3 linked regions of the Homo sapiens genome follow. The protein of the gene in region 1 interacts with the protein of each later gene in a pairwise test. Each region holds a gene or a part of one and is shown on either strand. Other genes may lie near its edges. The genes, in order: CIAO2B, UBE2K and PECAM1.

What was found.
Region 2: the proteins of CIAO2B (region 1) and UBE2K interact in binary tests that used the Homo sapiens proteins (3 or more experiments, as listed by UniProt).
Region 3: the proteins of CIAO2B (region 1) and PECAM1 interact in binary tests that used the Homo sapiens proteins (3 or more experiments, as listed by UniProt).

Annotation. Positions count from the first base shown.
Region 1 is NC_000016.10:66,932,355-66,936,103, reverse strand, and holds the start of CIAO2B (cytosolic iron-sulfur assembly component 2B), read left to right. Parts: upstream 1-1,701; 5' UTR 1,702-1,739; coding exon 1,740-1,881; exon of another isoform or gene 1,882-2,037; coding exon 2,038-2,117; intron 2,118-2,364; coding exon 2,365-2,490; intron 2,491-3,278; coding exon 3,279-3,324; intron 3,325-3,749. Other genes in the region: CES2 (cocaine esterase isoform 1 precursor), read right to left, coding at 393-468.
Region 2 is NC_000004.12:39,778,009-39,781,757, forward strand, and holds part of UBE2K (ubiquitin-conjugating enzyme E2 K), read left to right. Parts: intron 1-351; coding exon 352-426; 3' UTR 427-3,749. UniProt on the Homo sapiens protein: Accepts ubiquitin from the E1 complex and catalyzes its covalent attachment to other proteins. In vitro, in the presence or in the absence of BRCA1-BARD1 E3 ubiquitin-protein ligase complex, catalyzes the synthesis of 'Lys-48'-linked polyubiquitin chains.
Region 3 is NC_000017.11:64,384,138-64,387,886, reverse strand, and holds part of PECAM1 (platelet endothelial cell adhesion molecule precursor), read left to right. Parts: intron 1-3,749. UniProt on the Homo sapiens protein: Cell adhesion molecule which is required for leukocyte transendothelial migration (TEM) under most inflammatory conditions.

The sequences.
Region 1 (3,749 bases):
GATGCTGCCAGAAGCTATTACTGTTATTACCGGCCGGCAGCACCCGCTACAGCCACAATCATAAGAGGGAAATGGACTGAATCCCCACACCCCAATCCCTCACCCACTCCGACCCCAGGCTGCCTACCCGGCCTGGCATGTCCCGGCGCTCCTGGGGCCCCTGTACTCCGCTGGTTCCTTGCCGTGGTGTCCCCCAGCCCGACCCTTTCTGTGCTTCTAGGAGCCCACCTTGGGCGGCGGGGAGGCGTTGCGTGGGGCTCACGAGTTCCACGCTGTCATCTCCACCAGCTCCTACCTCCCAGGCGCCTGCCCTCCCGCACTGTCAGGTTCTGCCTCCGCAGCATTTGGCAGATCTGAGCCCGGTCCCTGTCGCCCCTCCGAGGGAGCCTCACCCTGGCCCCGGACAAGAAGCAGCAGAAGCCCACAGGCCACCGCGCTCAGCCGCGCACGAAGTCTGTGCAGCCGCATGGTCGGCTCGCTGGTCTCGGTTCGCTGCCGGCGGACACGCTGCTGTTCACCCAGAGGCTGCCCCGGGTCTGTCCAGCAGTGGATCAGTGCCTTGCCCAGCCTTGGAGTTTGGACTGGGCAGGGAGTCAGCGGGGTGCGCTGGCTTGGGCCGGGAAAGGTGGGTGTGGTAGGAGAGCGGGACTGAGCAGTCATAGGTGGGTGGGGATCTAGTGGTAGGCAGGCCCGGGCACGGCCACTTTCCTTTGCCCGGGCTCCTTTGGCATCCTCGGAAGGGGCTGTGCCATTCCTGCAGCCCTTCCGCGATCCAGGGAATCCTCTCTTCAAACCTGTCCTTGTCCACAGGCCCGATGAGCGCGCTGGGGGATCGATAGGAGGGGGCAATAAACTAGAATTGGAGACCCCAGGAGGGCTTCTCTGAGGATGTGCACGTTCAGGATCCCCCAGATGGAGAAATGGGAAGGAACTTGATCGGGGTGAAGGAACCGCTTGAGCAAAGGCAGGAAGGAGTGTCGGCGCCCTTCATTCTGGAAGTTCCTCCTTGCTTTCAGGACTCAGTTTCCTGGGTTCCCCTTCACGGCCCCTCATCTCCTTACAGTCCAGGGTCTGAGGGTCTCCGCGGTCCCCTCCCTACTCAGTCACGCCATTCTTTTGAAACGTACACGTGACCGCGGCACTTCTTAAGGAGCGCCCCCCTTTTCCTCGGTGGCTTTCAGTTTCCTCACCTCCCGCGGAGACCACGGCCATGGTCATTTATCCACTTGACAAACATTTCACGAGCCCCTGCCGGTCCAAGCTGTGGGGACGCCGTACTCCCGGGCCTATGGTGCAGCAGGGGAGGCAGGCGCGTCACCGGGAGGTCCCGAGACACTAGGATCCCTGCCAGGCCAGAGGCGACCAACCGTCCTGGATACGGGAGCTCCCGGCCAGCCTGACTTCCAGGAGGAAGCGGTGTGGGGATTACCTCCGACCGCCTTTAGTGCCCCCTGAGACCTGGTTCTGGCCTCTACGTTTCAGCCCGCTACTGGCTCGCACGACCCAGCGCCGCCGTGGTCCCTTCTCAGCGCCTTCTGCTCCAGCGACCATCATGTTCCCGGGTCCGAGCAGCCAGGGCCGCGGTCACCGCTTCTCTCGCACCTCAGGCCGAGAACCCACAACGCGGCGTGTCCCTCGCGCGACTCCGTCGCCACGCCACGCCCCCTTCCCGTTCTCCGGAAGTGCGCGGGTTGGAGCGGAAGCGCACGCCTGCTAGGATCAGCGGTGGTGGTTCCGCGATGGTAGGCGGCGGCGGGGTCGGCGGCGGCCTCCTGGAGAATGCCAACCCCCTCATCTACCAGCGCTCTGGGGAGCGGCCTGTGACGGCAGGCGAGGAGGACGAGCAGGTTCCCGACAGCATCGACGCACGCGAGATCTTCGATATCCGCCGCTGCTGGGCGCGGGCGGGTTCCGGGGGCTTGCGGTGGGGGGAGCAGTGATATCGAGCAGCTGGTGGAGCCGCATCCCAGCAGGGCGTTCCTGGCAGAGGGTTCTAAGTGGGCAAGGGCGCAGAGTCCCTTTTCCTTCACTTCCCACATCTGATTCGCTCCATCAATGACCCGGAGCATCCACTGACGCTAGAGGAGTTGAACGTAGTAGAGCAGGTGCGGGTTCAGGTGAGTCACTTCCGAGGGGAGCGAGTTGTTCCAGAGAGTCAGAAAGGTTTCTGTGCAGCAGGAGCTGGCGTGCTCTATGCTCACGAACACCGAAGGGTATCTTTGGGGAGGGAGATTGTTGTGCCTATTTTATGGGTGTTGAAACTGAGGCCCATAGAAGTTGGATGATTTGCCCAAAACAACAAACTAAGAAGAGGGACCTTGGGCTGAGGGTGGTTGACTCTTGACATCTCTCCTCCACAACCAGGTTAGCGACCCCGAGAGTACAGTGGCTGTGGCTTTCACACCAACCATTCCGCACTGCAGCATGGCCACCCTTATTGGTCTGTCCATCAAGGTCAAGCTTCTGCGCTCCCTTCCTCAGCGTTTCAAGGTCAGTTGGAGCTGAGCCCCGGGAGTGAGACCAGGCATTGAGGGTCTACTGCTGAGGATGGGGACTGGGAGAGCATGAACATGGATAGGACATCAGAGTGGGGCCTGGAAGGATCCCCATTAGCAGAGAGGAAACTGGGAGGAAGCTTTCCAAGTCGATGTGACAAGAATAAAGATCTGAGCTGGAAAGTGGAGAAAAGTATTGAAGAGTGTGGCAGGAAGGGCAGTAGGGAGCGGCAGATGGGTTTGGACCAGGGGTGGGGCACAGGCAGGCCTTTAAATCAACAGTAGTGGGCCAGTTCTTTGGATAGAATTGGAATAGCTAGGGCCGGGCGCGGTGGCTCACGCCTGTAATCCCAGCACTTTGGGAGGCTGAGGCGGGTGGATCATCTGAGGTTAGGAGTTGGAGACCAGCCTGGCCAACATGGTGAAATCTCATCTCTACTAAAAATACAAAAATTAGTGGGGCGTGGTGGTGTGTGCCTGTGGTCCCAGCTACACGGGTGGCTGAGGAAGGAGAATCAAATTGAACCTGGGAGACAGAGGTTGCAGTGAGCCGAGATTGCGCTGCTGCACTCCAGCCTGGGCAACAGAGCAAGACTCAGTCTTGGAAAAAAAAAAAGAATTGGAATACCTGTGGATGGGTTTGGGGTGTAACGGAAGGGCCAGAGTCCAAAGGCATGATTAGGAGGAAGGATCAGCTGGAGATGGTGCCTGAGGGTCTGGGGGCTGCAGGGAAAAGTGTGGGTCGGTGGGTGGGTGTTCAGGCCCTGGTTATCTCCCTCCCAGATGGACGTGCACATTACTCCGGGGACCCATGCCTCAGAGCATGCAGGTAAGTGTGGACTGGTGGTGAGGGTGTTGGCCCGGGCACCCCCTAAGCAGTCTGAGGCTTCCCCCTTGCACAGGAGTCTATGGGCAAGACTGGAGATGGGTAACTGTGTGAGTGAAATTGCCAGAGACTCCTCAGTATGGGTTATAGCCTAGACCGAAGCTGGCCTGAGAAGACTCTCCTTTGCTTACCATGTCCTCTTCTCCCAAATCCCCTCTCACCAAATATACAGGACCAGAGTGTGTCAGGCTTCAGCAGCGCAGGAGGCAGCCAGGGGGAGGGATCCTAAGAAGGCAGATTAGGTGGGCTCAGGTGGTTGAAGTAGCCTGATCAATATGTGGGGTCCTGGGAAGGAGGTGACAGGAGGGCTCTGTTGCTGCGGGGGACATATCCTATATAGAGGTTCAGAGGTAGGGCTGGCTAGCACT
Region 2 (3,749 bases), on another chromosome or scaffold:
AATCCCTTGGGCCCAGGAGGTCGAGGCTGCAGTGAGCGATAGTCATGCCACTGCACTCCAGCCTTGGTGATAGAGCAAGACCCTGTCTCAAAAAAAAAAAAAAAAAAAAAAAAAAGGAAAATAAGAGAAAATCTAGTTTTGGTAAACATATTTTCTGTTTTCAAAGTCAGTGATTTTTTTATTTTTACTAATTACTGTCATTGATTTTAGAAGCTTTCCATGCACTGCAAATGTAAATCAACTTACAGAAAAGAAACAAGGTGTTAATTCCCAGTATAAAGAGTGAATGATTCAGTATTGTTTAAATGTTTCCTTGAGATTTAATTTCCTGTCCCCTTTTCTTCTCTACAGAATGCAGTAATAGTGGCCTTGTCTTCAAAATCATGGGATGTAGAGACTGCAACAGAATTGCTTCTGAGTAACTGAGGCATAGAGAGCTGCTGATATAGTCAAGCTTGCCTCTTCTTGAGGAGCACCAACATCTGTTATTTTTAGGATTCTGCATAGATTTCTTTTAAACTGGCATTCTTGCCTAATGATGTTATCTAGGCACCATTGGAGACTGAAAAAAAAAAATCCCTGCTCTGTAAATAAAGCTAATTAAACGTCTGTGTAAATTTAAAAAGGGGAAATACTTTAATTTTTTTTCTTAATAGTGTAAAAATTCCCTGAGCTAAGCTAAAACCATGGAAGAAACATGCTACTTTAGTGTTTAGCAGTGTACCAAGACTAGCAAGAGTTTGCTTCAGGATTTTGTTGAATAATTAAGATAATATTTTGAGTGTGTCAGGGCCATTCAAATTGTTGGTGTTGCATCACAGCTACCTTAACTGTTTTTAACATGGATCCTCTGTGCCTGTGAATTTACTTGCATGCTTGTACTTGACTTCTTAGGATGGGTAGCTGAAAAGACCACCATTTTAAGCATTTGAGAATTCTTAAATATGAAATTTATTCAGAATTGAAGATGGTGACCTATTCAGAGCCTTTTTGTCCTTGTCAACAGACTGGGACAGTGTCTGATTCCCCCTTCACCCCCCCCACCCCCGCCTTGCCACACACAGCTAATATTCTAATGGTAAATTTCTCTGTATCAGGTGGGGAAATGTGCTGAAGGACAGTATGTATCCCTTGCTTCATTTTTAGGTCGTAGGTTTGGAATGTCTTGTCCCAGTTCTTCAAACACTCTTAAATTTTTCTTAAGTAATGTAAAAATGGAACTGCCAATTTTATTTCTCTTGCAAAAATAGTAAATACTTGATGTTACATTATTCCCAGGTTTAATGAAAGAACCCAACTTAGTTTTTCAGTGAATTTGACACCTATTTTTTAGTGATGAAATTTTTCTTTGAGAACTGGCAAGGATGCAGTCAGCTGTTTGCAGTTTTTAGCCTGATTTTGGGGTCTATAGAGATTGCTTTATTGGATACTTCAAGTCATTCTTGCTTGCACTTCCCCTATTGACACATGAAAGCTGTGTTGGTGTTTTATTGTACATACTTCAGATGCACATAGGAATAGAAGTGTGTTATAAATCTAGCTTTCTTTATGATGTTTCTGATAATACGAGAATTGAAAACTTTACCTTCTCTTGTACATAGTCAGACTATTTGTATTAAATTTACATTTCATTCTAAGTTCAAAAGTTTGAAAATTATTAGTTTTGCAAGATCACACACTAATGTAACCATTTTATGAAGGTTGAAGTGGATTTATGCAGGCAGTTCTATATATAGAAATACAATTCTTTTTAAATTTTTAGGACCAATACAAAATAACAAAAATGTAATGGAATCAGACTGAATTAAAGTAAGGCTGTATATTGAAAGTCATATTATAAAAGGTTTGCTTTCTTTAAGTGTTATTTATCTTAAATTATAATCGTTAAATGTTTGGAAGATAATTTTTGAATCATAACGTCAGCATAACTTCATTTGACTTCTCAATAATCTTGATACTAGAAGCAATAAAAGAACCATTATTAAATATATTGTAATGTTAAAGATGTGAAGGTTCTTCCAAAAATTTGTAAGGCTTTCCTAATTAACAGTAAACTCTTATAGCTGATATTATTACATACTAAACACAAGTTGCTGTTTTTTCCCCATATGTTTGCTTACGCATGTCTTTATACAATCACCTCTTTTTATTGCTGTAGTTTATTTTCTAAAGATGCCAAAGGAAACAAGATTTTTCTTTATTTATTTTAAATACCTGAAACCTCGTACTTTATATTTTGAAGTAAGGTGGGATTGTGTGAAAATGTGGATGGTTTTTCTCCAGTGTTGGTTAGAACTACTTTTTTTAAGTGGAGGGCAACTTGGTAGTATTAGTAGAATTTGGGTTTAAAAATATCAGACACATCTACCCAGTTTATTTTTTGCCTGTATTATCAGGGTATATTTAATTGTCCTGTGGTTAAACAAAGGTGAGAGAGCTCAGAGGTTTCTAAAGGTCAAGCATTTTACATATATACATACATACATGCTCTTGGAGGCAGCTATATCCTGCTTTGATTTTTATGCACATGAGCCCTATAGGGTTATATACTCATCTAACTACACTTCAGCATCCCCAGTGCCCAAGAAATTGGAAAGTACAATATTTGGTTTGAGACATTCTTCATAAAAGATTCTTTATTATAAAAATTTACCTCATTTACATTTAATGTGATGATCTTTTTTTTCCTTTCTGGTATATTTCCCACTGTACTGTTTGGTTTTTGTTATTCTCTTGTCTGTGGGTAGATTTAGTTACCCAAACATAGAAACTAAAGCAATTGCTTTTTTCCTCTGGTCTTAAATATGTTTGGACAAAAAGACACTAAAAGGTCAGGCCTAGGGGAAAAGTACCCTGGTGGAAATTATTTTTGTAATTCTTAATATTTTTGAGTTGGCTCCGTTTGTCAGTTTTAAAAGCCTCAAAAATTATGTTAAAAAAAAAATCCAGTGAAATCCCATTTAGGGCAGGCCGATTTGTTAGAAGTCACTGATGCTCCAGTAGGCTTTTGTTATAATCAGGCCTGTTTCCTGAGTATGTGCCTCTTTTAAAAGAAGAAATAATTAGCTGTATAGTATTTCAGTACTGATGAATGAATGAATGAATGAATGGCAGTTAGTGGACCCAAATAAGTATTCAGTGGTATATAAATATTTGAGGAACTAGGTACTGAATTAGGTGCTCTGAGTTGGCACCCCGAAATGTTTGGAATCACGACTATGATTTACTTAAACACGTAACACATTCAAGGATATATAAATGGAGTCTAAGTATTTTGCTTTTGAAGAGAATAATCTATGAAATGGAAGACTTGATTTTTTTTTTCATTTTTTAGAAGTAATACACATTTATGATTGTTGGCACATAAAACTATGCAAAATAATTCTTTTTAAGTATCTGTAAGAAAGAATTGGCAGTTTAAACGGATTTTGCTTATTTATGCACTACAGAATGCAGCATACTGTATTACTGTTGAGGCTGCTTAATAAGTTTACCAATGTGAAAAGCAGATCTTGGGTATAAGTGTATGCCTGATTTGAGCTTTTAAAACTGTGCAGTAGGTGTATGGTAATGTTTTACAATCCTATGTAGCAAAATAGGAAATTATGAATTTTTGTTGTTATTGTTTTAAAGATTTAAGATGGATTGGGGTAGGGAACAGCTGGAGCCAGGTATACCTTCTAGTATGTAGAGGGAAACAATGTTTAGATAGGAAAAAGGAAGCCGTCTGTTTACAGTTAACTTTATTT
Region 3 (3,749 bases), on another chromosome or scaffold:
CGCTCTGCGGCTGGGGTCCTGGGACAGCCTCGGCCCTTTCCCTTCCTTCCATCTCAGGCCTCTTTGTTCCCCTCCAGCCCGCACCTCACTGCAGCTGCCTCACCTCAGGAGGTGACGGCTGCTCCATCTTCACCTAGAAAACAGTCATCTGGAGGGAACTCCCTCAACTTCCCGCCTGGGCCTGGCTGCAGGCTTATCAGCCTCTCCACCCATCCTCTCGGTTTCCCTCCCGGCCTCGGAGGACACATGCACCCTGCTCCTCAGCTGATGGGGGCCAGCCAGGCACTTAGGCTGAGACCCTTCCTCACCCCCAGGACCCCACGCCTACGTGCATTCAAGTCCCTCTCCCCTACCACCACTTCTAGAATCTCTATTTCTGCTTCTGGCTCTGTTCTCTCAGTGAATGGGAACTCTTTTTTTAGGAAAAAGAAAAATCACAAGCAGACACCCACCCCCACCGTTTATCTGGTGTCCCCCTATCTGGCCTTTCTAGTTTCCTTTCTCAGTCGAACCTCTCTGAAAGTTAGTTTATAATCTGTGCCTACCCACCTCACCTCTCAGACACGCCTCGCCTCCCAGCAGCCTGGCCTCAGGCCCCACTTCTCCGGCTGTTGGGTCTCCTCTTGCTGAGGGGTCACCAAGGACCACCTGATGCCAAATGCAACGGACACTTCCAGCCCTCGGCTCCCTGTACCCCTTTCCTGCCTTTGACTTTTGATCGTGCCCCAAAGCCTCGCTCCTTGACCTTTTCCATCCTCTTCCCTGCTTTGTCTCCTCACTCTCTAACAAACCCTCTTCCTTCTCCCCCATGGCTGACTTTGGACTTACTTTGTCTTCTCCTGGAGTCTGAACCCTGTCCTGGTCTCTGCGGGCTCCTGGTCTTATCCTCCCTGGAGACCAGCTCCCCTCTCAACACCTCCACATTCCCCCCTCCTCCCCTAAGTTCACACTCCTCCCACCTTCACAGTCCAGCCCTGGCCTCTGCCCTGAGCCTCCAGTTAACACAGGCTGACCTTTGATGTCTCCTCCCAGTCCTCCTACTGGCCCCTCACACGCAGCTGCACCACCATCACTTTGTCTTCCTTCCTTATCTTTTTCTGTTTGTTTGTTTGTTTTTGTAGAGACTGGGGTCTCATTTTGTTGCCCAGGCTGGTCTCAAACTCCTGGGCTGAAGCCATCCTCCTGCCTCGGCCTCCGAAAGTGCTGGGATAACAGATATGAGCCACCACACCCAGCTGCGTGTGGCATTTTCTATTTTAGTTTGGTGGCACACACATCCTCCTGGGAATCTAATCCAGGAAGTTTATCTTCCATTCTTTCAACCCCATATCCAATCAAACAAAGTCTTTTTTTAAATTGTGGTAAAATACAAATAATATAACATTTATTATTAATGACATTTAGTACATTCACGGTGTTGTGCAACCATCACCATTGTCTAATTCTAGAACATATTCTTTCTTTTTCTTTTTTTTTTTTTTTTGACAGAGTCTCACTCTTGTTGCCCAGGCTGGAGTGCAGTGGTTGGATCTCAGCTCACTGCAACCTTCACCTCCCAGATTCAAGCAATTCTCCTGCCTCACCCTCCTGAGTAGCTGCAATTACAGGCACGAACCACCATGCCCGGCTAATTTTTGTATTTTTAGTAGAGACAAGGTTTTGCCATGTTGGCCAGGCTATTCTCAAACTCCTGACCTTAAGTGATCCACCTGTCTTGGCCTCCCGAAGTGCTGGGATTCATTCTAGAACATTTTCAACACCCCAGAAACAAGTCCTGTTGAGTCCACTCAGGAGATCCCCAGCCTATCCTTCCCTCATCCCCACTGCACCCGCCTAGCTCAGGCCTCATCAGCTTTCACCTGAACCACTTCCAAGCTGTTTACTGGCCTTGGGTGCTGTCACACCCCTCCTGACACCCTCAGGACAGGGCCCAGCTTGTCAGCACAGCAGGCCAGCCCTCCATTCTGGCACGACAGACCCAGCCACCTGGCCTCTCTAGCCCCACACTCTGGTTTCTGTAATGGGCCATGCCCAGAAGGCACGGATTTCTCACACCCTCGTGTCCTGGGACACGCTGTTCTCTTACCTGGAGTACCCCACTGCCTGTCCTTGGCCTGGCAGGCTCAGTTCAGTGGTCACTTCCTTCAGACTCCTTGACCTCTCCTGGGCAGCCCTTCCTCTTGGTGCTTACTGATATCACTGGAGTCCAGCTATGTGGGCCCCAGCAACCTTTGCTGTTTGGGACAGCAAGGATGATTTCTTACTTACTCTGTCAGCCCAGCACCTGGCACAGGTTCTCGACACATGTCTCATTGGATGGGAACTTGAACTGAACTTGGAGATGCTTGAGATTCGGGTAGGAAGATGGCTCAGCATGCTCTCTGATGAGCACAGAAGTTCATCAGGGACTCTATGCTTCGTGGCTCCCAGTAATTTTCCTGACGAGGGTGGGCAGCCCCTCCTTCTCCTGCACCCTCCACTTTCTCTCTGAGTCATTTCCAGGTTGAGGGCCAGGGGGCTGGCTGACTGATGGTGCCGCATGTTTCCAGGGAGCACCACCATCCACTGATGAGTGGCCTTGAGGTCAAGGTCCCACTGTTTTTAGCATGTTGGGGTTTGGCACTGTGGTCACTGGCTGTTCCGTGGTGACTTTCCAAATTTAGATCCTTCTCCGTCAACCTTCATCTCCCCGGGTTGAAAAGATCTGACCTCTTTAGGCTGTCCCACAGCCCCACCCTTCATCACAATAGTCCTGAAACTTTTTGGGTTCAGTAAGGAAATCTGTGGGCCTTCTCTCCAGAAAAAGCACACATTTGCACACAATTGGAGGTAGTTGATGAGCCTCCTAACACCCACCCATGCACCTCCCAGGGGCTGTGTCCCCCAGGTTGTGAACAGTCACTCTGTGTAAATAGTGAGACCTACAGGCAGTAATTCAGTTTGGCTGTGCTTGGCTGGTTTATTTAGAAAGATGATAATGTTTTCCATATTATCAAAACAAGAATCAGGCAGAGACTTTTGAAGTTTGGTTGCGTGGTATATTTGTTACCTATTGCTGCATAACAATTTACCTAAAACTTACTGGCTTAAGATAACACAGATTTATTATCCTGAAGTTTCTGAGGGTCAGGAATGCAGGAGTGGCTGAGTTGGGTGGTGCTGGCACCGGGTCTCATTAGATTGCAGATAAATTGTTGGTCAGGGTTGCGGTTATCTGAAGGCTTGACTGAGTCTGGGGAATCTGCTTCCAAGCTCACTCCTGTGGCTATGGGCTGGAGGCCTTAGTTCCTCATCCTGGGTACCTTCCACAGGGCTGCTTATGCTATGACTGCTGGCATTCCCCAGAATGAGGGATCCCAGACAGGAGAGAGAGTGATCAGGATAAAAGCTGCATTGTCTTTTATTACCTGATGGAGTATTTTGTTGGTTAATGTTAACGTGGGAGGTGACCACGTGTAAGTGTGATGAGCAGAGGGCAAGGACCATTGGGGGGGGCATCTTGAAGGGCTTCTATAGCAAGGGAGGTGGTGGTGGTTGTGGCGGTAAAAACTAGGTCACTGTTTTTGTTGTTTTGTCGATGATATTTGTGTTAAGATGAAGAGCTGAGACTCATATCTCAACAGAGTTTATAAAATGCTTTTCTTTTTTCCATCCTGCCCTCTCTTCTCCCTTGTCTGTTCGAGCTAGCCATGGGAATGTGGTGTTCCTGCCAGTGCATCCATTGAGTTCGTTTATTGTTAATTTATTTA